Linked DNA regions of Homo sapiens. The protein of the gene in region 1 interacts with the protein of each later gene in a pairwise test. Each region holds a gene or a part of one and is shown in the gene's direction. Other genes may lie near its edges. The genes, in order: KIF3B, CLCN5, ARHGEF10 and MAP3K11.

Evidence for each region.
Region 2: the proteins of KIF3B (region 1) and CLCN5 interact in binary tests that used the Homo sapiens proteins (3 or more experiments, as listed by UniProt).
Region 3: the proteins of KIF3B (region 1) and ARHGEF10 interact in binary tests that used the Homo sapiens proteins (3 or more experiments, as listed by UniProt).
Region 4: the proteins of KIF3B (region 1) and MAP3K11 interact in a two-hybrid assay, tested with the Homo sapiens proteins (one study listed by BioGRID).

The regions. Positions count from the first base shown.
Region 1 is NC_000020.11:32,272,964-32,280,659, forward strand, and holds the start of KIF3B (kinesin-like protein KIF3B), read left to right. Parts: upstream 1-4,687; 5' UTR 4,688-4,802; intron 4,803-5,154; exon of another isoform or gene 5,155-7,696. UniProt on the Homo sapiens protein: Microtubule-based molecular motor that transport intracellular cargos, such as vesicles, organelles and protein complexes. Uses ATP hydrolysis to generate force to bind and move along the microtubule. Plays a role in cilia formation.
Region 2 is NC_000023.11:50,093,579-50,099,738, forward strand, and holds the end of CLCN5 (H(+)/Cl(-) exchange transporter 5), read left to right. Parts: 3' UTR 1-5,652; downstream 5,653-6,160. UniProt on the Homo sapiens protein: Proton-coupled chloride transporter. Functions as antiport system and exchanges chloride ions against protons. Important for normal acidification of the endosome lumen. May play an important role in renal tubular function.
Region 3 is NC_000008.11:1,819,946-1,826,950, forward strand, and holds the start of ARHGEF10 (rho guanine nucleotide exchange factor 10), read left to right. Parts: upstream 1-3,980; 5' UTR 3,981-4,168; intron 4,169-6,101; exon of another isoform or gene 6,102-6,165; coding exon of another isoform or gene 6,166-6,190; intron 6,191-7,005. UniProt on the Homo sapiens protein: May play a role in developmental myelination of peripheral nerves.
Region 4 is NC_000011.10:65,604,198-65,611,222, reverse strand, and holds part of MAP3K11 (mitogen-activated protein kinase kinase kinase 11), read left to right. Parts: intron 1-2,774; coding exon 2,775-2,955; intron 2,956-3,152; coding exon 3,153-3,301; intron 3,302-3,406; coding exon 3,407-3,582; intron 3,583-3,709; coding exon 3,710-3,953; intron 3,954-4,418; coding exon 4,419-4,532; intron 4,533-5,141; coding exon 5,142-5,277; intron 5,278-5,370; coding exon 5,371-5,462; intron 5,463-5,580; coding exon of another isoform or gene 5,581-5,630; intron 5,631-7,025. UniProt on the Homo sapiens protein: Activates the JUN N-terminal pathway. Required for serum-stimulated cell proliferation and for mitogen and cytokine activation of MAPK14 (p38), MAPK3 (ERK) and MAPK8 (JNK1) through phosphorylation and activation of MAP2K4/MKK4 and MAP2K7/MKK7.

The DNA.
Region 1 (7,696 bases):
CATTCCCTGAGTCTCCTCCCCAAGATTCTGGGGCTCAGAAAGTCCTTTCTCTATTTTTCTACTGAAATAACTCTTTTCTGAGCAATAAATACCTCACAGTCCAGGTTAGATGGAAAAGAGGACACAGTATGGAAAGGAAATGCCAGGAGTGGAAACATACTTGGTAATATAGAAGTTACCCCATCATACTAGGGTGACCACTCATCCTAGTTTGCCTGGACTAAGGAGTTTCTTGGGACATGGAACTTTTGGTGCTAAAACAGGGACAGACCTGTGCAAACTAGAACAAGTTAGTCACCCTACAACTGTACAGCTACTACTACTAATCCCACTTCAATACACAGCTTTATTCAGCTTGCTAAGGACAGAATCAAGACCAGACCGTCATCAACAATGCCTTACCAAAGTTCTTTTTTCGGCCAGGTGCAGTGAGTGGGTCATGCCTGCAATCCCAGCACTTTGGGAGGCTGAGGCAGGTGGATCACTTGAGGTCAGGAATTCGAGACCAGCCTGGTCAACATGGCGAAACCCTGCCTCTACTGAAAAATACAAAAATGAGCCAGGCATGGTGGCACATGTCTGTAATCCCAGCTACTCAGGAGGCTGAGGCATGAGAATCACTTAAACCCGGGAGGTAGAGGTTGCAGTGAGCTGAGATTGCGCCACAGCACTCCAGCCTGGGCAACAGAGCAATATTCTGTCTCAAAAAAAAAAAAAGTTGTTTTAATTTTCATTTCTTTAATATGAGTAAGCATAAGTATCTTTCCTTTTCCTATGTTTAAAAGCAATATTTTCTATTCCTTTTCTCTGAACTATCTGTTCATACCTTTTACCTACCTGTTTAAAAAAATTTTTAAATAGTTTTTGTACATATTTATGGGGTACATGTGCAATTTTGTTACATGCATAGAATGTGTAATGATAAAGTCAGGGTATTTAGGTTATCTATCACCCAAGTATTTATCATTTCTATGTGTTGGGTACATTTCAGGTCTTCTAGCTGTTTTGAAGAACACAATACATTTTTGTTAAATAGCAGTAAACACATCCAGTTAAACATAGTGGATTGATGATGCGTATTTATTTTTTTCTCCCTCGAACCCCATCTATATGGCAATAAGGAATAAAAAATGTATTAACCCAGAACATGAATAGGAATGAAAAGGAGACATTAGTGGCCCAGGGATTTCAGCAAGTTTTTAGAAAACAGGGACAGAAGGGGAAGTAGTAACTGACTTAACAGGGGGAGGAAGTTATGACCCAAATGTCTGCAGGGAATATTGATTTGATGACTAAAAGGTGAGCCCAGATTCTTCCATAGAAGAGATAGACACTAAAAATAAAGATATGGATGGAAATCTCCCACAGAGTAGAACAAAAGAGCCAAAAAGAGGGACAATAAGAGAAAAACAGAGAAAATTAGAAACTCAGTTTGGAAAGTATAACTTCTGACTAAGAGAAATTCCAGAAAGAGAAAAAAATGGAGGGGAGAGCCAAGTCTGGTGTCTCATTCCTGTAGTCCCAACAGTTTGGGAGGCCGAGGCAGGGGGATTGCTTGAGCCCAGGAGTTTGAGACCAGCTGGGCAACACAGTGAGACCCCATTTCTACAAAAAATAGAAAAATTACTCAGGCATGGTGGTATGCACCTGTAGTCCTAGCTACTCGGGAGGCTGAGGTGGCAGGATCACTTGAAGCTGCAGTGAGCCATGATCATGCCACTGCATTCCAGCCTGTGCAACATAGCACAACACTGTTTCAGGGGAAAAAAAAATAGGAGGGGAGAAAATTATCGAAAAAATAATACAAGAAAATTTCCTAGATTAGAGGGATATAAGTCTCCAGATTGAAAAGGCCCAGCTAACACAAGTGAGGAAAAGCCTCACTGAGGGGAGTCATCATCAAATACAACATTATGGATAAAGATGATAGCCTAAAAGTTTTCAAAGATTAAAAATAAAAAAAGAACAAGACACATATAAAGCAACAGGATTAAGAATGGCATTAGATGTCTTAAATCTGGATACTAGAAACAATAATGCAATGTTTTAAAAATTCTGAGAGAAATAATTTTCAGCCTAGATTTCTTTTTTTTTTTTTTTTTTGAAATGGAGGCTCCCTCTGTCGCTCAGGCTGGAGTGCAGTGGTGCAATCTTGGCTTACTGCAACCTCTGCCTCCTGGGTTCAAGTGATTATCCTGCCTCAGCCTCCCCGAGTAGCTGGGACTACAGGCATGTGCCACCATGCCCAGCTAATGTTTTTTTTGTATTTTTAGTAGAGACAAGGTTTCAGCATGTTGGCCAGGCTGGTCTCAAACACTTGACCTCAGGTGATCTGCCTGCCTCGACCTCCCAAAGTGCTGGGATTACAGGCATAAGACATGGCGCCTGGCCTTCAGCCTAGATTTCTATACCCTGCTAAACTATTAATCAAGTGTGAAAACAGTATAAATGCATATTTAGACATACAAGGACTAAATATATTTGCTTCTTTGCAACCTTTCTCAGGAATCTACAGAAAGATGTGCTGCACAGAGATGACAGAGTAAATCCACAATCTAGAAGTTTGAGACACAAGGTCCAGGGCACAGGGAATCCCAACCAGGTGTAGGATATAGGAAAGTTCAGTATGACAGCTGTGCAGTAGGCCTGGAGAGCACTGGTCCAGATCAGAGCTGAAGCCTTCAGGAGAAAAAAACAAAAGAGAACTCATGAACTTTTTTTTTTTTTTTAAGTTGTTGTTGTTTTTGTGAGATGGAGTTTTGCTCTTGTCACCCAAGCTAGAGTGCAATAGGGTTATTTCGGGTCACTGCAACCTCCACCTCCTAGGTTCAAGCAATTCTCCTGCCTCAGCCTCCAAAGTAGTGGGGATTACAGGTGCCTGCCACCACTCCTGGCTGATTTTTGTATTTTTAGTAGAGACGTGGTTTCTCCATGTTGGCCAGGCTGGTCTTGAACTCCTGACCTCAGGGTGATCTGCCTGCCTCAGCCTCCCAAGGTGCTGGGATTATGGGCATGAGCCACCATGCCTAGCCGAATTGTTATGTTACACATCTGGAAAAATCACTGCTGATTATTTTGTCTAATTTATTAACCACATAGGAAAAAATTAACAATATCTGCAAAGAAAGCTAATGAAAGGGGGGAAAAAATGAGGCAATTATTAGCTTCAGGAAATACCAAAAGAGGCTGGGTGCAGTCTCTTTTGGTATTTCCTTTATTATTTTATTTAAAAATAAACTTCTTCACTGTAGAGAAAGTGTAAATCAAATTATGTGGGAGTTTTAATGGGCCAGGCCTGAGAATAGCACACATCACATTTAATTGGCCAGAACTTGGTCTGAACTGTAAGGAAGGCTGGGAAATACTGTCTAGTTGTGTGTCCAGGAGCAGGAAGAAATAACGTTTTTGAGAGGAAGTAGCAATATCTGCCACAACAGGCAAAAAGTAGTTGTAGGCAGATGAAGAAGACCATCTCAGGTATTCATTTATTCAAGGAGCAAAACATATTTGTTCAGCAACTACTATTGACTAAGCTTGGTTCCAGGCATGGTGGATACAAGAGTGAACAAATAAAAGACTGCTCTTATGCAGTTTCTATTTAGTGGGGAACAGCAGGTGTAAGTTCCATGGGGGTTGGAACCTGCCCTTCTAGGCCAGTGTGGTTGGAATAGAGTTTTAACGAATTTTGCAGGAAGTAATAAGGACTTCATATTTGATTCTAAGAGCAATGAGACTCCATTAAATCGAGTATTAATCAGAAAGTGGCATGATCTGTTTTATTTATTTATTTATTTATTTATTTATTTTAATCTTTATATCTGAGACGGAGTTTCGCTGTTGTCGCCCAGGCTGGAGTGCAGTGGTGCCATCTCTCTCACTGCAACCCCTGCCTCCCGGGTTCAAGCGATTCTCCTGCCTCAGCCTCCCGAGTAGCTGGGACTACAGGCATGCGCCACCACGCCCGGCTAATTTTTTGTATTTTTATTAGAGACGGGGTTTCGCCATGTTGGCCAAGCTGGTCTCGAACTCCTGACCTCAGGTGATTCACCTGCCTCAGCCTCCCAAAGTGCTGGGATTACAGCGGGAGCCACCGCACCTGGCCGCATGATCTGTTTTAAATAATTACTCTGGCCACCTTATGGAAAATGGATTGTTCGGACAGAGCTGGACAAAAGAATGGAAACAGACCAGATATTTCAGGCAGGCTAGAGATGAGCGTGGCCTGGCCTTGCCTGGGGCGGTTGTGACTGACTGGATTGGGTGAAGGACAGGAAAGCTACAACAAGGGTGCCTATAGGTGTTCGTATTGAGTCACTGGGGGCACCCTAAATGGGAGTTACCTCAGTAGCAGTTTGAGACACCAGTCAGATAATGGATGTGAAAGCTTTTAGAAAGGTTGAACGGCGGCTGAAATCGCGTGTGTTCCATTTACAGATGGGAAACTGAGGCACGAGATACCAGAGGATGGAGTCAGGCCACGTTGTGCGCCACTCTCCCCGCTTAGGTGGGTGAGGAGACCGAGGTGTGTTGGGCCCCCGCTAAACACCAGCACCGACCTGAGCCCCGCCCAGACCCCTCCAGCCGGCTTTCCCTGTCCTCTGCTCGTGTGCCAATAAAGTTATTGAAATTGACACCGGTTGCTAAGGAAGTGGGTCGCCGAGCCAGGTTGCTAAGGAAGTGAGCGGCCACTGTCTCTCCCCATCCGGGGCAGCGGGGAATGGCTGAGCCAGGGGTTCGCCGCCCCCGCCGCCGCCGCCGCCGCCGCCGCCGCCGCCGCCGCCCGCTTTCGGCTCGGGCCTCAGGTGAGTCGGAGGGGCCGGGCGCCCACCGAGCAGGGCTAATCCTGTGGCCGCCTGGGGTTTTCCCTGCGACCTGCGCCCGCGCCTCTGCCTGGCTTTGCTGTCCCGCGAGCCGGAGCATCCTCTGCCCTGCCTCCTAGGCATCCTTTGGTAGTCCGGACGGCCTTGCCCCTCCTTCCCCTGGCAGGGTCGCGGCCCGACCCCCAGACACGGCCACCTTGGGTCGCAGCCCACCTGGGGGCCCTGAGGCGGTGGTCAGGGCCCCAGTTTGGGAGGAGGGCGGGGAAGCGAGAGCCTGGGGTCCGAACCTCGGCGCTGTGCTGGGCTTGCTGTGTGACCTTGGGCAAGTCTTTTCACCTCCCTGGCCTTAGCTGACCTGTTTATTCAATGGGGTCCTAACATTGCTGCTCAGAGTGGTAAAGATAATGAGAAGTGTATGTGAAAGTGCCCTAAATGGGGAGAGGGAGAATTCTTAGGGCACCCTAGATGGGAGACCAAGAGGGCAGTTTGAAGTCTGAGCGAGTTAGAGACGTGGCATTTCCACTTAGTAACTGTGTGGCCCTGGGCAAGTTAATTTCTCTGAGTCTTCTTTTCCTTATCTGTGAAATGAGGTAATAGACTACTGTGGAAATCAGTGAGACTGGGTATGTCAAGTAGCTTGGCACATAGTAAGTGCTCAACCAGCTATTATGAGGCGTCCAGGGTAGGAGGGCAAGACTTCCAGGAGGAGATGACTTTGGGACAGGTAAGGTGTAGGTGTGTAGAGTGCCAGCTCATATGGGTAGTCCTACTGCAATGCCAACCCCCAACCCCGGTTTTACTTCTCCATTCTGCTCAGAGCAAGGGAGGTACTTCTACAAGTAGTCCTGGGAAACTCTTTGAGGTCAACCCCTTGTAGATAGCTGGGGTCATGGTCTCATTTTCTACCTGGGCTTCGTTGACCCTTCCAGAAGAAAAAAGGCATCTTTGTGTCCTTTGGGAAGTGCTTAAAGCAGTAATAACTATTTACAAGCATATGATTAAGAAGCACTTTACCAGGCATATTATTTCATTTAATCTTTATGTAGACTTTGCCAGGTGCCTGGTGATGTCATCCTCATTTTGCCGATGAGGAAACTGAGGTTCAGAAAAGTAAAGGGAAGGACCTGCTTAAGAATCCTTTTTTTTTTTTTTTTTTTTGAGACAGAGTCTTAGTCTGTTGCCCAGGCTGGAGTGCAGTGGCGCGATCTCAGCTCACTGCAACCTCCGCCTCGTGTGTTCAAGCGATTCTCCTGCCTCAGCCTCCCGAGTAGCTGGGACTACAGATGTTCACCACCTCGTCCACTAATTTTTGTAGTTTTAGTAGAGACAAGGTTTCACCATGTTGGCCTGGCTGGTCTCGAACTCCTGGCCTCAAGTGATATACCTGCCTCGGCCTCCCAAAGTGCTAGGATTACATGCGTGAGCCACCACACCCAGTCATTGCCTAAGAATCTTGTATCTATTAAGTGATGGAAGTGGACGTGTTTCTAGGTAAATCCTGTATTTTATCCCCCATTCACTGTTGCCTCTGATTTTGCAACAGTTGCTATTATAAGGCCACAGGGGTATTCTTTTGTTACTTTTAACTGGCTAGAAGTTAAAAGGCAAGGAAACAAGATCTCAGGTAAAGCTTTATTTAAATAGATACCACCCAAAGTGAGGATCTCAGAAAATAGTTGGAATCTTTTTTTTTTTTTTTGAGACGGAGTTTTGCTGTTGTTGCCCAGGCTGGAGTGCAATGGTGCCATCTCAGCTCACTGCAACCTCCGCCTCCCTGGTTCAAGCAGTTCTCCTGCCTCAGCCTCCCAAGTAGCTGGGATTACAGGCATGTGCCACCATGCCCGGCTAATTTTGTATTTTTAGTAGAGATGGGGTTTCTCCATGTTGGTCAGGCTGGTCTCAAACTCCCGACCTCAGGTGATCGCCTGCCTTGGCCTCCCAAAGGACTGGGATTACAGGCATGAGCCACTGTGCCCAGCCTGAGAGCTGGAATCTTTAAAAGAGGGCTTCTCTGTCCCTCATTCCCTCCTCATTAAAATGAGGGGACTAGGCTAGATTATACTGAAGGCCCTTTCAGTGCTGTTATGCAGTTGTGGTTAAAAGCTTGCAATCAGACTACCTGGACTAAAATCTTGGCTCTGCCACTTCCAAGCTGTGTGCTACTGAGCAAAGAGGTGCTACTTTACCTCTGAAATGATGCTCAGTACCTCTGAAATGATGAGAGGACTTTTTGGTAAGGGGCTCTGTGAGGAAGAATTATTCATAGTTCATTTTGAACCCCTTGGTGGTATAGTTTCCTCATCTGTAAAATGGGGATAGTAATAGGCCTTATTACCTGTGGCCTTATTATCATGTATGGCTGTTCTGAGGATTTATTTGAACTTAATATATGTGAAGTGCCCAGCATATTTGGTAAACATTAGCTATCGTTATTTGGGTTTAACGTGGTGCTTGTGCTGTATTTTCCGTGTATGGTTGGTGAAAGAATAAATTAAAGTATGTGATAATACCAGGTCCGTCAACCATAATGTCATTGCAAGCATGAAACAGTAGCCATCATGGCATTATATAAATGTTGATATTTTTATACAGTTGGCCCCAGGAACCTGTAATCATGTGCCACAATGGGTTGCAAAGAAAGGTAAAGCTGTCCAGGCATGGTGGCTCACGGCTGTAATCCCAGCACTTTGGGAGGCCAAGACGGGTGGATCACGAGGTCAGGAGATCGAGACCATCCTGGCTAGCACAGTGAAACCCCATCTCTACTAAAAGAAAAAAAAAATTAGCTGGGCATGGTGGCGGGCGCCTGTAGTCCCAGCTACTCGGGAGGCTGAGGCAGGAGAATGGCGTGAACCGGGGAGGTGGAACTTGCAGTG
Region 2 (6,160 bases), on another chromosome or scaffold:
CACTCTGGGGACACTTGGTGGAATTACAGAGCCACCATCATCATTCCAACCACTATTTCATTTTCTGTAGTTTTACCTGTGTGCAATTACTCCCCCTCCATTCTGTTCCACTTCTTACTCCTTAGTACCAAATCCTCTGTTTGGGATTGAGCGCTGCTCCTGGTTAATCATTCCTACTACAAAAAAAAATAACTCCCAGGGCTAGTTAAATTGTAAACCAAGGCTCAGCAGTCTCACAACACATGGACCAGAGGTGACACACAGCCATTTCCTTTGCCATGTGGCCCAGTTGCTGCTGCCATGCCTCCATTTCCACACTGGATGCCTACGGCAGTGAGATTTCACTGCCGGGGTAAGAGTTCAGCCTGGATGATTTTATAGCTCTGTTCCTAGCACTTCTCATCATCCTTCCAGCCCAGAATCAGCGGTCATTCTGCATATTCCCACCAACCCTCTACCCCCAAACACTTCAGTGTACCTCATTTTAAGAGTTGCTGATCCCTGATTCTAGGACGTTTTTACCCATAGTTCTTGTCTTTCCAAAATCTGAAATTCTTTTTTTTGCTCAGAACTGGGTAGCCAAGGGTTATTTTATTTTTATCTTTAAAATAATCAAGGCAGTCGCTAGAGTTTCTCCTTGTGAATAGATCACTCTAGCATTTTAATGAAAAAGAAAAAAATCTTTCTGGGGTATGTTGTATCATAGTAATGGCTCAGTAACCACATATTTTGTCCTTTCCATGTCACTGATTCCTTCATATGAGACTATTTGGCTTGACTACCCTGTATATTGTGTAGAAATCAAAGTTCTTATCTGTACATTTCTGGTCCAATACCTGTCTTATTAGTTGTCCTTCCCCACTAAAGTTTGCAAAACAGAAAATGTTACTATTTCTGGTATTTAATGACAATGAAAGGTTTGGTCATATTTCATAGTGCAGTAGCGATAAGGAGGGTGTCTCAAGTTTGCTTTTGTGTTTCTTCTAGGCTTTGTTCTTGATTTTAGACAGATGAGCCAGTGTTAAGGTGCTACTTCAGAGAATAAATTAGAGAAATCAGATAACACTGTGCCAAGGTATACTTTGTAGATGCTAAGCACCGATTGGCCCTCCAGAGAATGACAATATCCCTTTGATACCTCACTCCTGATCAATCTCATTCATTAACCTCAGCTTCTCAGGAATCCTTGTAGCTTGTATGCTAGAAGTAGCTATGGTATATGGTATCCACTATATGTCCAGTCCTATGGTTTGGCTCAAAGGTTGGCTAATTGCAGCTAGAGCTCTCAACTGCTAGCTCAGCACCTTGACATTTGAAGTTTCTTGTCTTGAGGAGAAGGAAAATGTTCTTTCTGCCATTGCCACTTTAACAGTTGGACATGCTTAAGCAACAAATACAGCCAGTATAGGGAGGACTGTCAGTAGCATCAAATGGCCACATACCTCAATGGCAAAAGACTAGATGGTTTGTGATTTAAAAATTAATGAGTCGAGATGAGACTATTTTGGTATTAAATGAGAAAATTGCCTAACACAAGGGAAGGGTTTACAAAAGAATGCCAATTAGTGTTTCAACAGAGTTAGGATTTTCCAAGTAAGAGTAGCTGGTAGCCATCCAGCCATAAAAGGAACGAGAGTCTATAGATTTGTAAAAGTAAAACTGCTATATTTTGTATCTTCAAATCTTCAATATAAAGAATTTAAAGAACCTGAAACAGTTAATGCATGATTCGTTATATTGGAGGGAAAAAGCAGGGGACTGATAATACAAAATAATGGCAACTTTAAAGATCATTTCTACGTGGATGTTTGGTTAGAAACATATTCCAATGCTCTCCTCTTTCTCTGGCCACAGCATCCTGGCTCAGCCCAGCTGTGGAGTAGAGGTGGTAAGATCCACAGAACAGATATCCTCTGGTAGATAAGCTGACATTGATGATACTTTGAATTTACCAGCTGGTGAAGCAAACGATTAATTTGTGATTGAACTGAAAAGCAGTTGAATTGTTTTGACACCAGAGGCTGAATCTAAACCCTTTACAGGAAGAGCAGAGCATACTATACATTTCTTAGCAGATCTTCAATTCTGTTTGAACATGATGAAGTAACCAGGGTTTAGTGAGATCTAAGGCCGTGAAGTAATTCACAACCAAGATCTTATGAACGCATTCAGATGTGAGGGGGGCAAATATGTTTTCAAAAACTTAGTGTGCAATAGAGTCCATTATAGAAATTAACCACTGCTATATGTTTTAAGTAGTTCAATCACCTGTTGTGGTTCAGTCTTGATTATTGTTTATTTTGTTAGGTGATAAGTAGGAAGATGCACTTGTTATCCCACACTATCTCTTGTTTTGTTTTGTTTTGTTTTTAAATAATGAACAGTGCAATCTTTGAACTTGAGTTTTTAATAATGATAGCAAAGACAATGGTGAGAACTTGAAACAGCCAGCATATTTTATATTGCCAAAGTACTTACTGATGACTGACCACACTGTCTTGTGAGGAACTGGGTCCCCTGCACTGGATCAGAGCCAAATGCAAGCCACCCATCAGTTCAGAGGAAGCAGGAAAACATCTTTTGGGTGGTGCATAGAACATTGAGCTCTTAAAAACCCGGAGAAAAATTAGGAATTTAGAAAGTAAGTGGGAGGTAGAATATTGAGTCCTTTTTTAAAAAAAAGAATTGATGTCTAAATATGTAGTCTGAACTTAAGTGTCCTAAAACCTTGTTTTTTGTTTTTTTGTTTTTTGAGGAGTCGTCTTGCTCTATCACCAGGTGGGAGTGCAGTGGCACAATCTCGGCTCACTGTAACCTCTGCCTCCTGCCTCCCGGGTCCAAGCAATTCCCCTGCCTCAGTCTCCCAAGTAGGTGGGACTACAGGCGCACACCACCATGCCCAGCTAACTTTTGTATTTTTAGTAGAGACGGGGTTTCACCATGTTGGCCAGGATGGTCTCGATCTCTTGACCTCGTGATCCACCCATCTCGGCCTCCCAAAGTGCTGGGATTATAGGTGTGAGCCACCGCACCCAGCCAAACCTTGATTTTTTTAGCCACCTCTGGGATTGCCTGGGTTCCCTTTGGAGAAGAAACTAAAAGTTATGGCCATAGAAAAAGCCCTGGTAAGAAAATATTTGAATGGTGTAAGATGGTGGAAGGAAAGCCATCCCACACCCCTACAACATATGTTCTGGCATTTATAAACTGCTTGATTGTGTGCCTCAAGGGGAGAAAAAGTCAAGCAATGCTTCAAAGGCCAGGCTTTCTAAGCAAATGAGTGGTTCAAAGCAGTGTTTGGCTCAAGGGCAGTCTGGTTTTATGGATAGGGCCGACCCAAGACATCTGCTCATGAAGAAATGTGGCATCTGTTGCCATTTCCTAAACTATAAGGTTTAGATAGATTGTCTTGAATTTTGATAGCAAATTTTTTTAAATTTATATTTCTGCCTCCTCGTACATCCTTATATATGGAAAAAAAAGTAAGAGTTCCTCAGATCAGAGCTCAGTAGCTGTGTCAATTTGAAGTTCAATCAGTGTAGTTGTCCTGGGGTGATCGCTGACTCTGCTCTGTTTCATATTTCAGTTGCTTGCTCCAAGGAGAGAATTTCTGAGAACAATGGGTGTTAGCAACTTTAAGTTACTCCCCAAACGTTTGCTGGCCACATTCTCATTTCTAAACATCTGGATCTGGGTAAAGGTTTGAATAGATGTAGGGAACAAAATTGGTTTTTCCATGGTGTAGTCTAATTTTGCCAAATCACCCAAGAAAGAAAGTATATGACGTGTGGAGTTTGCATTTCTTGGATGGGACCTATCGGGTCACCCAGCCCAGTCTTACAGTCATAAATTCCTACCTCTTAGTTCCTGCCAAAGGGCCTTCAGCCTCTGTGTGCACACTTATTGAATGAATGCTTTGCCTAAAGTTTGGCCTTTTGAAGAAAAACAGCATGTGATAATATAAAAATATGAGAGTTTAAAAAAAAAAAAGATCTCTGCCTCTCTTCTCTCTGCCTCGTCCCACCTTGCTGTCTGTCTCATTGTCTTTCTCTCCCCTCACCATGCGCTGAATTCAGATTTCTCTTTCTTTTATTATAGGCATGTTGTTTTGAATGTGGACTTTGTGGGAGGGAGAGGATTGTTCTGAGAACAGAAACTGGAAGATACGTCTGAGTTGATGGGACCAACAGGGCTTTGCTCCTCTGTGAGGGCCAAAGCCATTGATACTTGTCGGGGGTGATGAGGGCTTTAGCATCTCAAGGCAGACATATGAAGTATTTACTGCTAAACTATATTACTTACTAGTACAAATCTGTTGGAATTCAGGGGCAGTCTAAGATTTGGTGAGTGAAATGCCATCTGGCAAAATCGAGAAGAGAGTGTGGCCTGAGAGGGGAATGTTCAGCCTCACTGTCACATTAAGGGTACCTCAAAATACATGGTCCTTCCAGTGTGTTCCTTTTCCTTCCTCCATTTCACTTTGTCCCCTCTTCTTCCTTTCTCTCCCATTTTCCTGGCTTTTTAGCACTCAGCTTTTTTTTATAAGTATGTATTTACTTTTTATTATATATTTGGTCCTTTGGGACTTTGTGATGATTAAGAATTTATTCCATTCAGGATTTTAAAATGATGTGTTTAATATTTTGTTCTCTTAAACTCTTTTGAAGCTATGCTGCTAACCAGGTATAGGCCAGAAAGGAGGTGGCCCAGTCAGTACCTTGCTCACGTCAGCTAAGGGGGACAGTGATGTCATGTGGGTGACTCTTCTTCATTTGACCAAGGCCAGCCTCCTGTTCTTACCTCTGCCCATTCATTTCTGGCTATGGGAAAACTACCACCTGTTGAGTGAGCCAATGAGGCCAGGAAGATCAGAGGGGCTGGGTTCCGGCCCATGGGCCACTATTTGAATTTCTCTGTAGTAAGCTCTTTGTAGGGCTGGCTCCAACTGCAGTAGCCAAAGAAAACCTGTCTGACTCGACATTTTAATGCCTGAGAGTTGGTGAAAGTTCAGCTGAAGCTAATGTCTAGACATCAGCAGTAACTAGGCATCCAGAAAGTAGCTTCAACCAAAGCTAATAGAGCCCAAGTTTCCGCAGGAAGTTTGGTGCTGAGCTGTCCAGAGCAGTTGTTTATCTGAGTGTTGCTAGCCCTTAGCCATGCTTTCTTAGCTTTATTCTCGCCTGTTCCTAGGCATAGCCTGAACCAGAGCTATGGCTCACTGCTCGCTTTATTCTACTCCCTAGTCATGCGGAACAACATAGTCTAAAAAGGAAGATGTGGACTGGGGAGTTAGGAGACCTGATTTCTATTCCCTATGCTTCTACTAACTAGCCTCGAGATCTTAACCGCTCTGTGCCTCAGTGTTCCCATCTGCAAAATGGGGATAGTGTTAATTGCCCTACCTACCTCACAGGGTTGTTGTGAGGATAAACTGAGACAATGAATTCAAAGCAAGTTGACAAGTAAGTGCTATGCAAATTGTAAGAAATGGAAACAATCATGTTAAAAGCAATGGAATGGACATTGGCAGAAGGGTTAATGGATTGTCCAGCCCTTTCTCTGTGTGGCTTAAACCCAGGTCGCCATTGCTTTATACATTTTCACTTAGCACAGATTTGTAATTATGCATGTAATAAAGCACAGCCTTATCCACCCTGGTGTCTGGTGTGTTTCTAAAGACCCTAAACTTGGTAGCTATTGATTTCTGATCAGAAAACCACAGGGGCAGAGTGGAAGGTTCAGGGGAGGGTAGCACAAAACACAACTGCAAACCCCTACTGGCAGGCCCACTGCTTAAAAAGATTTATTAAATAGTTATTTTCACATTTACAGACTCAGTAATACTCTTTACCATAAGGAGGCAAATAAGAGGCAGCTTGCGTTTTTGGAGATGTTCCAGATACCCGGATACCTCATTCATTGTGGCTACTTAAATGTTCCTGTCTCATACATTGGTGATACTTTCCTGATGATGTGAGAATTGGCTGGGAGCTGTATTTTTCTCTCTCTTTGAGCTCTTAATGATGTAAGGTCGTGGGCTTTGACAGGCCTCTTGCCTACAGCTACTTTGTACAAGGAGGAGGATGGGTAATCAAAACGGTCCTCCCATGAATACTAGGATTCTTAGTACCCTCTTTATGGTGTATTGGGATTAAAATGT
Region 3 (7,005 bases), on another chromosome or scaffold:
TGTTTTTCATGTTTTCAAGATTCATTGTTATTGAACATATCAGTTTCTTCCTTTTTATTACTGTATTATTAGTATTCTATTATTCTATGAAGATACAATACTTTATGAGTTCACCTGTTGATGGAATTTGGGTTGTTTCCAGTTGCGAAGTATTTGAACTGTTTTGAAGAAAGAATTCTTGTAAAAATCATTTTTTTTTTTTGAGACAGGGTCTTGCTCTGTCCACCCAGGCTAGAGTGCAGTGGTGGTGAACATGACTCATTACAGCCTTGACCTCCCAGCCTCAAGCGATCCTCCCACTTCAGCTTCCTAAGTAGCTGGGACTGGAGGTGGAGACTATCATGCTAGACTCCTGGGCTCAAGCAATCCTCCACCTTGGCCTCCTAAAGTGCTGGGGTTACAGGTGGGAGTCACCATGTCTGGCTGTAAAAGTCTTTTAAGGGACTTATGTTTTCACTTGCCTTGGGCAAACCTAAAAGTGGGATTGCTGAGAAATGGGCAAACAATTAATCAGAGTGGTTGCGCCATTTGCACTCTCATCGCCTTGTATAGTGGTTCCAGGGGCTCCACATTTTTACCCTTGCCATGTCGGTCTGCAGTTTCAGCCGTGCTTGGATGACGGTGGTGGCATCTCATTGTGAGTTTACTTTGGGTAACACTGAGCACTATTTCCTGTTCTTGTTGGCTATCAGTACATCTTTGGTGAAGTATTTACGTCTTTTGTTTATTTTTAAATAGACTTGTTATTGTTATTTACAGGCTTGTTATTGTTATATTGTTTTGTCCCTTTTGAAATAGACTTGTCTTGTTATTGTTCATTTGCAGGAGTTCTCTATTTACCAGGACTATGGTTTGAACGCGTTTTCCCCAAAGTTTATGTGTTGGAAACTTGACCCCCAATGCAGCAGTGTTGGAAGGTGCCTACTAGGTGGTGTCTGGGTCATGGGGGTATGACCCTCATGGATGGATAAATGCCATGACTGAGGCGGTGGGCTCCTTATAAAAGAATGAGTTTGGGTGAAACCTCGTCTCTACTAAAAATACAAAAATTAGCTGGGTGTGGTGGCACATACCTGTAATCCCAGCTACTCGGGAGGCTGAGGCAGAATAGCTTGAACCAGGGAGTCGGAGGTTGCAGTGAGCAGAGATCGCACCACTGCACTCCAGCCTGATGACAGAGCAAGACTCCGTCTCAAAAAAAAAAAAAAAAAAGATAAGTTTGGCCCATTTTGCATCCTCCCTCCCCACCTCCGCCTCCCACCTTCCGTCATGGGATGATGCAGCCCGAAGGTTCTTGCCAGATGTGGCTCCTTGATCTTGAACTTCCCAGCCTCCAGAACTGTGAGAAATAAATTTCTTTTCATTGTAAATCACCCATTCCCAGGTATTCTGTTACAGCAGCACAACGTGGATTAAGACAAGCCATTTGTGGGATATATGCATTGCCCCTGTGTTCTCCCAGTCTGTGGCTTGCCTTTTCATTTTCTTAATGATGTCATGAGATGAGTAGAAATATTAAATTTTGATAAGCCATTTAATCATTTTTAAATGGTCGGTCCATTTTCTGTCTTACCTGAAGATCCGTAAGATCTTTTCTTATATTTTATCCTAGCAACTTTATAATTTTTACACTTAAGTCTATGATCCATCTGAAATTCCTAAATTCTATTTTAATCCTAATAGTTTATTTGTAGATAATTTTGTTTTTTAACATATATAATCATATTGACTGTAAATAATCAGTTTTTCCTCCCTCAATCCTTACACTTTTTGTTTTTATGACCTACAACACTTGTTAGATGCTGCAGGACAATGCTGAATAGACTACGGAGAGTCAAAGATTTTCATACACCCTTATCAGTACAAGTAGATAAAAAGTACAAGTAGATAAAAAGTACAAGTAGATAAAAAAATCAGTAACAAATATGACCTAATTGACATCTGTAGAACTTTATGTCAGTGAAAGCATGTTCTCAGCAAGTGCTCATAGAACATTTACCAAAATAGACAATGTTGGGCCATGAAGCAAGTGTTTGAAAATCTTAAACGACAAAAATAAAACAGCTGATGTTTTAAGGCCCGGTGGAATTAAACTTTAGTTACAATAAAAAGAAAACCAGAAAGTCCCCATATATTTGAAAGGTGAACCTAACTTTTCTAAATATCCCATGGGTCAAAGAGGGAATCACAATGGAAAATCCCAACTCTTCCATATCCGGGCTTACGAAAATAGGGATGTATCTGTGAGGAACGCCTGAATAAAGCAGACAGACAGGATCTATTGGAGCTCCAAATCAGGGGATTTTCTGCCCAACCTGCCTGGAAGGCATTGCTCTGTGGCCCTACTCAGTGGTGTCCCTGGCGGCCCTGAGTTTAGGGGCTCAATTTCATCCATTGAGAAAATGAGTTGTTTATTCCATACACAGGACTATTTCCTCTTATCTCTACCTTTTTAGAAAACACTACAAGTATCAGGATTTTCTCATCGTATTTAGGTAAACAAGAACTAATTTAGTTGACCTTCTTACTTCTGTTGATCAAGACCATTGATCTGACCATTGATCTGTGCAGAAGATCTCTGAATAAGGTACCCAGAGAACCCTAGGAATAGAAACCTGAAATAAGTTTTCTAATCTTAAGGTCGCTGAGAGCAAATACCTTTTTCAATTGATTCATAAAAACAACTCAGTCTGATTTCATAAAATTAGCAAGTGTGAATAATAAACATTGAAAAAATATCACCTTACCTACGATTATTTTTTCCAGCCATTGTAGTCTTTCTATGTTGGCTATGATTTTTACATAGTCCAAAATTTTCAGGGAAATAACTTATTCCAGAGCACACAAGCCTTAAGGGCAGTTAATGTTTAGATTAATTTCGTGATACTTAGCATCCCAAATAGCTGTTTGTATTTCTTCTATAAAACAAGTGAAAGGGGCTAGAAATCTCTAAGAAGTCTGACAGTTCTAAAACACTGACTTAAAATTACTTCTATGATTCGGAGATTTGGGTAGGAGAAGGCATAGAAATAAATCTAGCATCTGCGAACACACTTGTTAAATGTGCTGACCAGGTAAAAGATAACATCCTTTAGTTATTTTGGTTAAAAATGTCTTTGTTTCTCGTTTTTTTTTTTCTTTAATAGTAATTATAACGATAATCTGTTTCCTTTTTAAAAGTATAAGACAAATAAATGCTCAAAGTAAACAATTCCAATAACTCAGAAGGGGCCATTCCCTGGAAAGGTCCCGGGAAAAACGAGCGCTTCCTGGCAAGAAGCAAGCTTCAAAAACTGCCTCGGAAACGTGGCTGAAGTCATCGCATTTCCAAACGCCCAAGCCTTGGCTGGTCCAGGGCAGCTGGCGCGGAAGACCCGGAACGCCCTGTGGGCAGGGCCAGCTGCGGACGGAGGGACGGGGGCTCAAGGGCGGGTCGGGTGGGGTCCCGACGCCCCCTCCTCGGCTGGGCGCACCCCGGGTGTCCGCAGGGAGGGGCGATGTTCTGGGGGGGGGAGCGTCTGCCCGACGCCCCCTCCCTCAGGTGAGCTCAGCCCGTGGGGGTCCGCAGAAAGGGCGGTGCTCTGGGAGAGGGTTAGGGTCTGCCCGGCGCACCCTCCCCAAGGGGCGCAGCTCTGAGCCGGGAGCAGGCTCTGCGGGGAGGATCCAGATGTTGGGGGCGGGGAGGGCACTCGGTCTGCCCAGCGACCCCTCCCGAAGTGAGCGCGGCCCGGGGTCCGCGGGGCAGGAGATGATCCGGGGGCGGGAGCCTCTGCCGCGCGCCCCCTCCCACGCGTGCGCAGCCTGGGCCGGGCGTTGGGCAGCGGGAGGGGGCGCGGGCGGCCACGTGGCCTCGAAGGAATGCGCGGGCGCGAGGGCAGGGCGCTGCCGAGAAACCGGCAGGCTCTGCGGCCAATGGGCGCCCGGAACGGTCTGGGCCCGCCAATGACAGCATGGTGGGTGGAGCAGGCCGTCCGGGCGGGAGGGGCTGGGCGCATCCCTGTAGCCGGCGGGCGCGCGATCCGGGACGGACGGGGTCGCGGGGGACGCGGGGGACGCGGGGGACGGCGGGGAACGGCGGGGGACGGCGGGGAACAGCGGGGGACGGCGGGGAACAGCGGGGGACGGCGGGGAACAGCAGGGGACTGCGGGTCGCGTCCTGGCCGCCGAGGTGAGTGCGGGCCCCGCGGACCGTGGGTCCCCTCGCGGGCTTCTGGTTTCCTTTGAGAGTTGCACTTCTGCCCGGCTCCCCCGAAATCGCTGGGTCCCACCCGGAGGTGGCTGCGCCCCCGACCCCCTGCGCAGATGTTTCAGGGAAGGGGCTGAGACCCCCTCCCCCCGAGCAGCTCCCCCTTCCGCGGCGCCCCCGGCCCCTCAGGATAACGGCGCGGGCCTGGGCGGGGGGAGCAGGGACTGGCAGCAGGGACCCCTGGCCCCAGGGGCAGGAGCGAACTCCGATCGGCGGAAGGAGCCCGAGGGGCGAGCTGGCTTCGCCTGGGGGGTCGTGCAGTAACTTAGATTTTCCGGTAAAGGAGAAGAATGCGGTCCGCCTCAGGATGCAGAGAAGGACCGGTGTAAGGAAAGCCGGCGTCTTTCCCCCGCACCCTACCTGTCCCCCTACCCCACCAGTTCCCCGCACCCCGTGTACCCCGCCTGTCCCTCAGCACCCCCTGTTCACTCTGCACTCCACCAGTTCCCCGCACCCCAGCTGTCCCCCCGCACCCCACCTGTTTACCCTGCACCCCAGCTGTCCCCCGCGCCGCAGCTGTCCCCCCCACACCCCACCTATTCCCCCGCACCCCGCCTGTCCCCCCGCACCCTACCTGTTTATTCTGCACCCCACCTGTCCCCTCGCACCCCACCTGTTCCCCCTGCACCCCACCTGTCTTCCCCACACCCCACCTGTTTACTCTGCACCCCAGCTGTCCCCCCACACCCCACCAGTTCCCCGCACCCCGTGTACCCCGCCTGTCCCTCAGCACCCCATGTTAACTCTGCACTCCACCAGTTCCCCGCACCCCACCTGTCCCCTCGCACCCCACCTGTCCTCCCCACACCCCACCTGTTTACTCTGCACCCCAGCTGTCCCCCCACACCCCACCTGTTCACCCGCACTCCACCTGTCCCCCCGCACTCCACCTGTCCCCCCGCACCCCACCTGTCCCCCCTGCACCTCACCTGTCCCCCCGCACCCCACCTGTCCCCCCGCACCCCACCTGTCCCCCCGCACTCCACCTGTCCCCCCGCACCCCACCTGTCCCCCCGCACCCCACCTGTCCCCCCGCACCCCACCTGTCCCCCGCACCCCACCTGTTCACCTGCACCCCACCTGTCCCCCCGCACCCCACCTGTCTCCCCGTACCCCACCTGTTCCCCCGCACCCCACCTGTCCTCGCACCCCACCTCTCTCCCTGAACCCCACCTGTCCCCTGCACCTCAACTGTCCTGCACCCCACCTGTCCCCCTGATCCCCACCTGTCCTCTGCACCTCACCTGTCCCCCTACACCTCACCTGTTTACCCTGCACCCCAGCTGTCCCTCGCACCCCAGCTGTCCCCCCCGTACTCCACCTGTTCCCCTGCACCCCACAGCCCGCTGGTGCCCAAGAAGCCAAGGTAGATTCTGAGGAAACTGCCCTAGGTCCACAGACGCCCTGCCCACCTGTCCCAGCCCCACTCCCCTTCCATGGGCCCCTGGGCACTGAAGGTGAGGTCTGAGTACCCCTCCCGACTGTGGCCAGTAGGTCATGTTCCCAGGCAGCAGTAGACGAACTTGCTGTTGTCTGATATTGATTCCAGTCACTAACTTTGGCTGCAAGTAAAAATTCTCATTGACTCAAGATGTAACGGGTTTTAATTCTTTTCTCTGGTTAACCATAACCTGAGTACGGACTGGTCAGTATTCTAGATTCTGTGCAGGAGTGACTTAATGTCCATATGGGTGGAATGCTGCAAGGAGGAACAATTTCACTGTTGCTGATTAATAATATGTTTTGAACACCTGCTTTATAGAAAATAATTTTTATTCGAAAAGAGAGATGATTACTGAGGTTTACACGTCATGTATTTTTAAAAACACACTTTGTCCCTGTCTGTCTCTCACAGCATTTATTTGCTGGCTTTAGCAGCCAACATCGGCAGTTACGGATGCATAACTCTTTATAGACAGATGAGACCTCCAGGATTTCTCAGCAGTAAGAAAAGTCATTTGTATAAGGTGCTATTTGTAATTCATTAGTTGTAGACAGTTGGGGGTGAAGTGAAGTTAAAAGTTATTCAGAATAGCTTTTTATGTTTTTAAAAGTTGATGCTTGACTTCCAGATGTAACCACATTTGTCTTCTGGGTGCTTTGGTGTGCTGCCTTTCCTCTGCAGTTTGTGTGTGCATACGTGTGCGTGTGTCTTTGTGTATGTGTTTGTGTTTGTATGCATGTGTGTGCGTTTGTGTGTGCGTGTGTTTGTGTGTGTGCTGTGTGTGTGTGCGCTTTGTGTGTGTGTGTGTGCGCGTGTGTGAGTTGTAGATAGAGGCGTTGGGTGGTGTGGAGGGTGTGGAGTTACAGACCTGGGTTGAGGTGGGGAAGCTTTTCCCTGGCCCTGTGAGTCCAGACTTCTCACGGGACTTGAGGGTGCTCACTTACGAAGTTGCTAGAAGGCGTTGTATGGGGAAGTGCTGCTTAAAACAAAGATGTTTGGCATAAATTAGAGCAAACTGGAAATGCGCTAATGACGGTTGTATTCTGTAAGCGATGTGAAAACGTCATAGTGAGATGTAAGAAAGCGCTGTTGTAGGCCCGTCATTGTTTACTGCACAGTGTGTGGCAGGAAGCATGCAAAGAACAGCTCGGATCTGGAGATGCTCAGAGAATCTGTGTTTCATGCGTGCGTTGCTTATAGTTTGCCTGGGTAGAAAGGTAAGTGGCGTGAAATAAGACAGAAGGGAAGCGTAGCTGTTAGTCATTCATGAGGGAGAACTTCAGCTCTCTCCCTTAACCAGGCTTTCTGGGAGTGT
Region 4 (7,025 bases), on another chromosome or scaffold:
CTCCCCCTCCCAAGTGGGAGACCTGGCCCAGGCCTCCCAGAAAGGAGAAGTAGGGACCACGGGAGGAAAGCGGAAGAGGTGTGAGCTGCCCAGGCCACTCCCAAGCCCCACAGAGGCCAGCCCAGGGAGGGAGCTGGTGGCCAGGTCCCTATCAGAGGCCAGGGAGCCCTAAAGGGGCACTGAGAGCTTCCCCCAGTTTCGGGGTCTCTGGCCCATTCTCCTCTGGGTGACCCCTGACCTCCCATGCCTGGGATCTACATCAGACACCAGAACAGCAGTTCGAGTTGGGACAGTTGAAAGCACAGAGAGGAGCTTGGAGAGAAAGCAGAGGATGGGGCTTAGCAGCTGGCAGAGCCAGGAGCGGGGAGGTAGCAGAAAGACCACAAGTACAAAGAAGTCCTGAAACTTTGGGTGAGTTGTTGCCCCTCTCTGGGCCTCAGATTCCCCACCTGAAAAAGGTGGAGAGTGGCCACCCGGCCTGAGATACTGGAACAGCACTTTGCCAGTCTGGGGTGCCACAAGTGGCTAGAGACAGGCCAAGAAGCAGCAAGTGTTGGTCTTCAAAGGGGAAGGTGGGCCCTGGCACCAGGGGAGGTGCCCATTTCCACTCCACCCACTGCCCCAGCCTGCTGTGTTTCCCCTTTGGAATGAGCTTGTCGTCGGGGGCTTGCTAAATGCTCAGGTCCCCGCCTCCAGCAGCCAGACCAGAGGCTGTTTTGAAGTTGGCAGTAAGGAGTGACAGAGGAGGGAGAGGAGGGCGGAGATACGATAAGTGCTTTAGGACAACTGGCCTTTAGGATGCTTCTGCCAGGTGGCAGCCCCCATGCAAAAACTTTAAAAGTGTGGTCTTGTTTCATGCTCGTGACAGCCATCTGAGGAGGGTTTTGTTGTCATCCTCAGCTTGATGAAGTGTTCAGGACTCAGCTCCAAGGTCTGGCTCAGAGGAGTGGGTAGATTTTGAGACCATTCTCTGGATTAGGAAAAATTGCAGGAAAATCTACTGGGCATGCCGGGATAGTAAAGGTGGTCATGGAGGGCACCTGGACATCAGGTAGAGCTGCTGAACCAATTTGTCTGGCCTGGAGTTGCAAATGTGGAAGATGCCAGTGGGGAGAGGGAGCTGGTACCTGGAAGAGGCTGAGTCAGCCAGGGGCAGTGGGCAGAGGTTGAGGAGAGGTCATGCTCTGAGAAGCACCAGCGCCGAAATGGCTGAAGGTGGAGGACACAGAAACAGAGCCAAGCAGCCAGGGGCTGTGGGGGCTGAGGACGGTGGGGCAGCGGGGACAGCTGGCAGCAGTGCCAGATGCCTCCTCAAGGCCCAGGTGGCCTGGCCAGCAGCAGGATCAGGGCTTGTTGCTTTAAGCCCTGAAAAATGAGCACCCTGGTTCTGCCACCTCCTCTGGGAAGTCTTCCCTGACTCACCAGGCTGTATTAGGTGCCCTTCCCATCTGCCCCACCCCCTGTGCCCTATGCTGCCCCCATGACAGCCGTGTCACACAGGGCAGGAGAGCTGAGAGGTGTGCCCTGACATGGGTCCAGAAACATGGTTGACTTGATATTGCTTCTCTTCCACAGTGCAGTTGGCTGTAACCTGAAAAGTAGAGGGGCCCTTCAGACCCTTCATGACTCTATGACTTTGTCCTCTTTCTATTCCTCGAAAACTTCTCTCATTTGAGCCATTCCTGTCCTGGTGAGAGATATGCAAGTTGCTGCTTCTCCTCTTTGTACCAAGTACGGTGGCCCCATTTGGGTTAAAGCCATGAGCCCCTGCCAAGTCTGACCATCCACGCCTACATTTACCCCAAGCTCCTCCTTTGTGGCCAAGAACCATCACTTTCTTGGACCCCACCCTTTCTCTTCCCTTCCAGCTGCATTGGTAGGTATCTTTTGGAGTCTTTGCTTTGGGAGTGGCTGCACTTGCCACAGTGTGATGTGGGCACTAGGGGCCTGTGGTACCTGCTGGGCTTCTTTTCTCACCAAGAGCTTCCCTCTTGCTCCCCACTCTAAGGGGGGTTCTGATTCACGCTCCTGCCTCAACAAAATGACAGGAGACTCACAGATCTCTCTTGAAATCAAAGCCATAAATGTCCAGAGCTGCCACCTTGCCAGTTTTGCTTCAGTGTAATATTAGGGAAAAGCTAGAACACTGGTTTCAGAGCCACACAGACCAGGTTGTAATCTCTGCTGTATTTGTTGTATGACCTCTGCCAAGTCATTTCCCTGCTTGGTTTCCTCATCTGTGAAACATGAAAAATATTATTTAGCTCATAAATGGTTTTGAGTGCTGGGGTTGAGTGTGAAATGTTTGGCCTCGGCCAGGTGCAGTGGCCTGTAATCCCAGCACTTTGGGAGGCCGAGGCGGGCAGATCACCTGAGGTTGGGAGTTCGAGACCAGCCTGACCAACATGGAGAAACCCTGTCTCTACTAAAAATGCAAAATTAGTCGGGCGTGGTGGCACATGCCCATAATCCCACTACTCGGGAGGCTGGGGCAGGACAATCGCTTGAACCCAGGAGGTGGAGGTTGCAGTGAGCCAAGATCACGCCATTGCACTCCAGCCTGGGCAACAAGAGCAAAACTCTATCTTAAGAAAAAAAAAAAAGGAAAAGAAAAGAAATGTCTGACCTCAAGTAGGTCCTCAAGATCTAGACCAAGTCACCTCTGTGCCCCCAGGACCCAGCCAGGATGTCCGTCAGATGAGTTTGCTCCCAGCTCTTACCCTGTCCCCACCACCTGATCCTGGAGCATCCACAATCTGGCCCCTCTTCTCTAGTTTTGCTGCTGCAGCCCATTGAGAGTGACGACATGGAGCACAAGACCCTGAAGATCACCGACTTTGGCCTGGCCCGAGAGTGGCACAAAACCACACAAATGAGTGCCGCGGGCACCTACGCCTGGATGGCTCCTGAGGTTATCAAGGCCTCCACCTTCTCTAAGGGCAGTGACGTCTGGAGGTGCGGCCCTTGGTGGGGCTGGACGGGCTGCTACGGGGCTGCAGAGGGCAGAGGTGGCTGCCTAAATCTAGGGCTGGGCCAAGTCCAGGGACAGGGACCCAAACCACTTGGCTCCTAGTTGCTTTTGGGTGAAGTGGCAGTAAGGGGGTGGGGGTTGGGAGAGAAAAGGGAACACAGACCTGTTGTCTCGCCCACAGTTTTGGGGTGCTGCTGTGGGAACTGCTGACCGGGGAGGTGCCATACCGTGGCATTGACTGCCTTGCTGTGGCCTATGGCGTAGCTGTTAACAAGCTCACACTGCCCATCCCATCCACCTGCCCCGAGCCCTTCGCACAGCTTATGGCCGGTAAGAGGACGGGGAGGGCAGGTGAGGTACAGAGCTCCCTGGCCCAGGACACATCCACCCACGGACCCCTTCTTATTCTGTCCCCGCTGCACGCCGTGCCCCTAGACTGCTGGGCGCAGGACCCCCACCGCAGGCCCGACTTCGCCTCCATCCTGCAGCAGTTGGAGGCGCTGGAGGCACAGGTCCTACGGGAAATGCCGCGGGACTCCTTCCATTCCATGCAGGAAGGCTGGAAGCGCGAGATCCAGGGTCTCTTCGACGAGCTGCGAGCCAAGGAAAAGGTGCGAGGAATCAAGGGACCCAGCGTTGGAACGAGTGTCTCCCCGATCTCCCTGGGGCAGAGTCGGGGCGGGCGCTGCCGGGATTGGTGCCAGGCTGACCTCTCCACCATCGCTGTCTCGGGCGCAGGAACTACTGAGCCGCGAGGAGGAGCTGACGCGAGCGGCGCGCGAGCAGCGGTCACAGGCGGAGCAGCTGCGGCGGCGCGAGCACCTGCTGGCCCAGTGGGAGCTAGAGGTGTTCGAGCGCGAGCTGACGCTGCTGCTGCAGCAGGTGGACCGCGAGCGACCGCACGTGCGCCGCCGCCGCGGGACATTCAAGCGCAGCAAGCTCCGGGCGCGCGACGGCGGCGAGCGTATCAGCATGCCACTCGGTGAGGGCCGGGCCCCGGGGCGTCCCCCGCCATTGGCTGCGGGGGTGGGGGTGGAGCCAGGCCTGTGTGCTCACCGCGCTGGGATTGGTTTAGGGTGTTGTGGGTGGGCCCGTGAGATGAAGGCTGGGAGGGGTGGAGCCAGGAGTGTTTTTTTTCTGTCTGTGGGCGGGTTCTGGCGGAAGTATTTGCATGTCGGTCTGGGAGTGGGAAGGGGTGGGGTTCACGAAAGTTCTGGGAAGGTCTAGTGGGCGGGGCCGGCCGGCGCCAGGGCATCTCCGACTCAGACGAGTAGCTTTCCTTATCCAGACCCAGGGGCTCAAGAAAGCAGTGAGGCTGGTCACAGTCTCACAGCCATCGTGCCGCTCCCTATGTGGCCTGGGAGCTGGCCTTGGGCCCCTGCAGGTTGGGGTCCTGGCTCTACTTCATCACAAACCTGAACCCTGCTCCCCCCAACCCAAATCCCAGACTTCAAGCACCGCATCACCGTGCAGGCCTCACCCGGCCTTGACCGGAGGAGAAACGTCTTCGAGGTCGGGCCTGGGGATTCGCCCACCTTTCCCCGGTTCCGAGCCATCCAGTGTAAGAAACTTCACCTCTCATGCCCCTCTCCGCCCCCCAGCTCCTTATTCTCTGTCAGACCTTATTCTTGGAGGCGGAGCCCACTCACTATCCCCTCTTCCTCCCCGCCCCCAGGCTCCCTGCCTTAGGTCTAGCCTGTTACCTCTGAACTCCCCAAGCAGCATTAATTTTACTTATTTTTTTTTAGTCAAATAATTGTATGACACTATGTACTACTAATTTTCTAAATGCTTTGCTAATATTAATTTCTTGCAATAATTCTATTTGGTAGTTATTTTTGTTGTTAATTTAAGTTTTATGGATGAGAAAAGTGAAAAAAGTAACTTGTTACACAGTTAATAAGTGGAAGAGCCAGAATCAAACTCAGGCAGTTGGTGTCAGTGTCTGTACTAATTACTAAGCAGCAAACTTCAGCCCAAGGGCTAGATGAGATGCCCCACCCCACTGTTGGCCCCAAGACCCAAACCCATCTATCTTGCCCAAAGCTCACCCTGGGAATGGTACAGGGCCCAGCCTGCTCCCCATACTCTAAAGTTTATCTCTGAAGCCTGACTGTGATGATGGAGGGAGAATAAAGATTATCTCCGATTTCATCGGTTTCCCCTGCAGTGGAGCCTGCAGAGCCAGGCCAGGCATGGGGCCGCCAGTCCCCCCGACGTCTGGAGGACTCAAGCAATGGAGAGCGGCGAGCATGCTGGGCTTGGGGTCCCAGTTCCCCCAAGCCTGGGGAAGCCCAGAATGGGAGGTGAGTACCTGAGTGCCCCCCAGACCCAGCATCATTTGCTTTCCCCAAGTCCTGAAATTCCTAAAGCACCCCTCCTTGCCCTCCCATCACCAGGAGAAGGTCCCGCATGGACGAAGCCACATGGTACCTGGATTCAGATGACTCATCCCCCTTAGGATCTCCTTCCACACCCCCAGCACTCAATGGTGAGTGGCCTTCCTCCCCCGGCAGGATCTGGCTGAGCTCCTTCCGTGGGCACCTTGGGGAGGCCACAATAGGCTAGTAGGCAAAGCAGGAGTCCTGCCCTGGTTGCTCTCATTCTAGAGACTAGGAAACCAAGGCTGAGACAAGACAGAGCCGATCCTGGAACCCAGGTCTGACCTACAGGCCCACGATCAAGCGGCATACAGCCCAGGCCTCGGCTCGGGGCCCAGAGTCTCATCCCCTTGCTCAGACCTGGCCTGCAAGAAGCCTCTTCCCTGGCCCCATGGCAGCCCCTGTGCCTTTAGCAGGCTCCAGGGAGAAAAGAAAGACAGGAAGCCCACCTGGCATTTGGTACCCAAGGGAAGCTGGACCCAGATGGGGGAAGGAATCAGCCTGTGTGGGGTGGAGCCAAACAAGTGTCAGCCACACTGTGCTTCTCAGAGCCCCTTCTGGGAGCCTGTAGGTGAAGAAGAGAATGAGAAGGCCGAGCAGGCAGGATCCAGGACCCATTCTCACCACATCCAGGATAGCTCGGGGCCTTTCTGTTCTCCATGACGGTAACTGCCCTACTGTGCCAGGCATTCCCTCCAAGCATTGATGAAGAGGGGCTACTATTACCCCATTTTGCAGATAAGGAAACTGAGGCTCTGAGAGGTGAAGTAACCTACCTCAAACCCCCAGCTGAGGATTTGAACCCAGAGAGGCTTCAGCTCCAATGCTCTCGTAGTGAGCTCAGAAGCTTTCACTTGAAGAAAGGGCTTCTCACGTATAGACTGCTTAGGAAGCCAGAGGGTCAGGCAGAAGGCAGGGCTCCAGCATTGCAGGGAGGAGGGCTCACTCAGCTCAACACTGCCCAGCTCTGAGTGAGGCCAGAGAGTTATGGCCTCCCTTGCCTGTGGGTCCCTGTGCCAACCTAGGGACCATCCTCAGAGCCCCCACACCTGCTGCTCACAGCCAGAATGTAGGACCCGCTTAGCTGCTCTCAGAAGAGTCCTGTTCAGCAAGCCGTTTAAACTCACTCCTCCCATCCCACCCAGCCCATCGCCTCTTCCATTCCCTGAGCTACACTTGATAGTTGTAACAACAGCTAACCTTTGTTGGTTCTCTTCTATGTGCCAAGCAGTTCTGTGAGGGGAGTAGTAGTATTGGCCTGCATTTTACAACAGAGAAAACTGAGGCACAGAGAGATTAAGTGGTTTGATGTAAGGCAACCAGTAGAGCAGGGATTTGATCTGCTCTTGCCTGTCTGACCACAGAGGCAGAGCCCTGGGCCTCCATCTGCCCCGCCATTTGCTACTCCAGCAGCTGCACTGCCCCCAGCATCTGTCCTGCAGGGACTGAACTGAGAGCTGGAAGGCCAAGGAGGCTTCTTGAATTCACTTGCTCTAAATTGTACCAGGCCAGATGGGCCAAAGGAGAACTTGAGAGCCTGTCAACCCAGGTGTGTAGGCTGAAGCAGGTCCTGACTGTTCCACAGAACTCTCTGGCCCTCAGCTCCCAGAAGCAGGGGCACAAGGGGCCTGGGCCCCATCGTTCTCAAGCTTGCCCCATGTTTTTTTATCCAA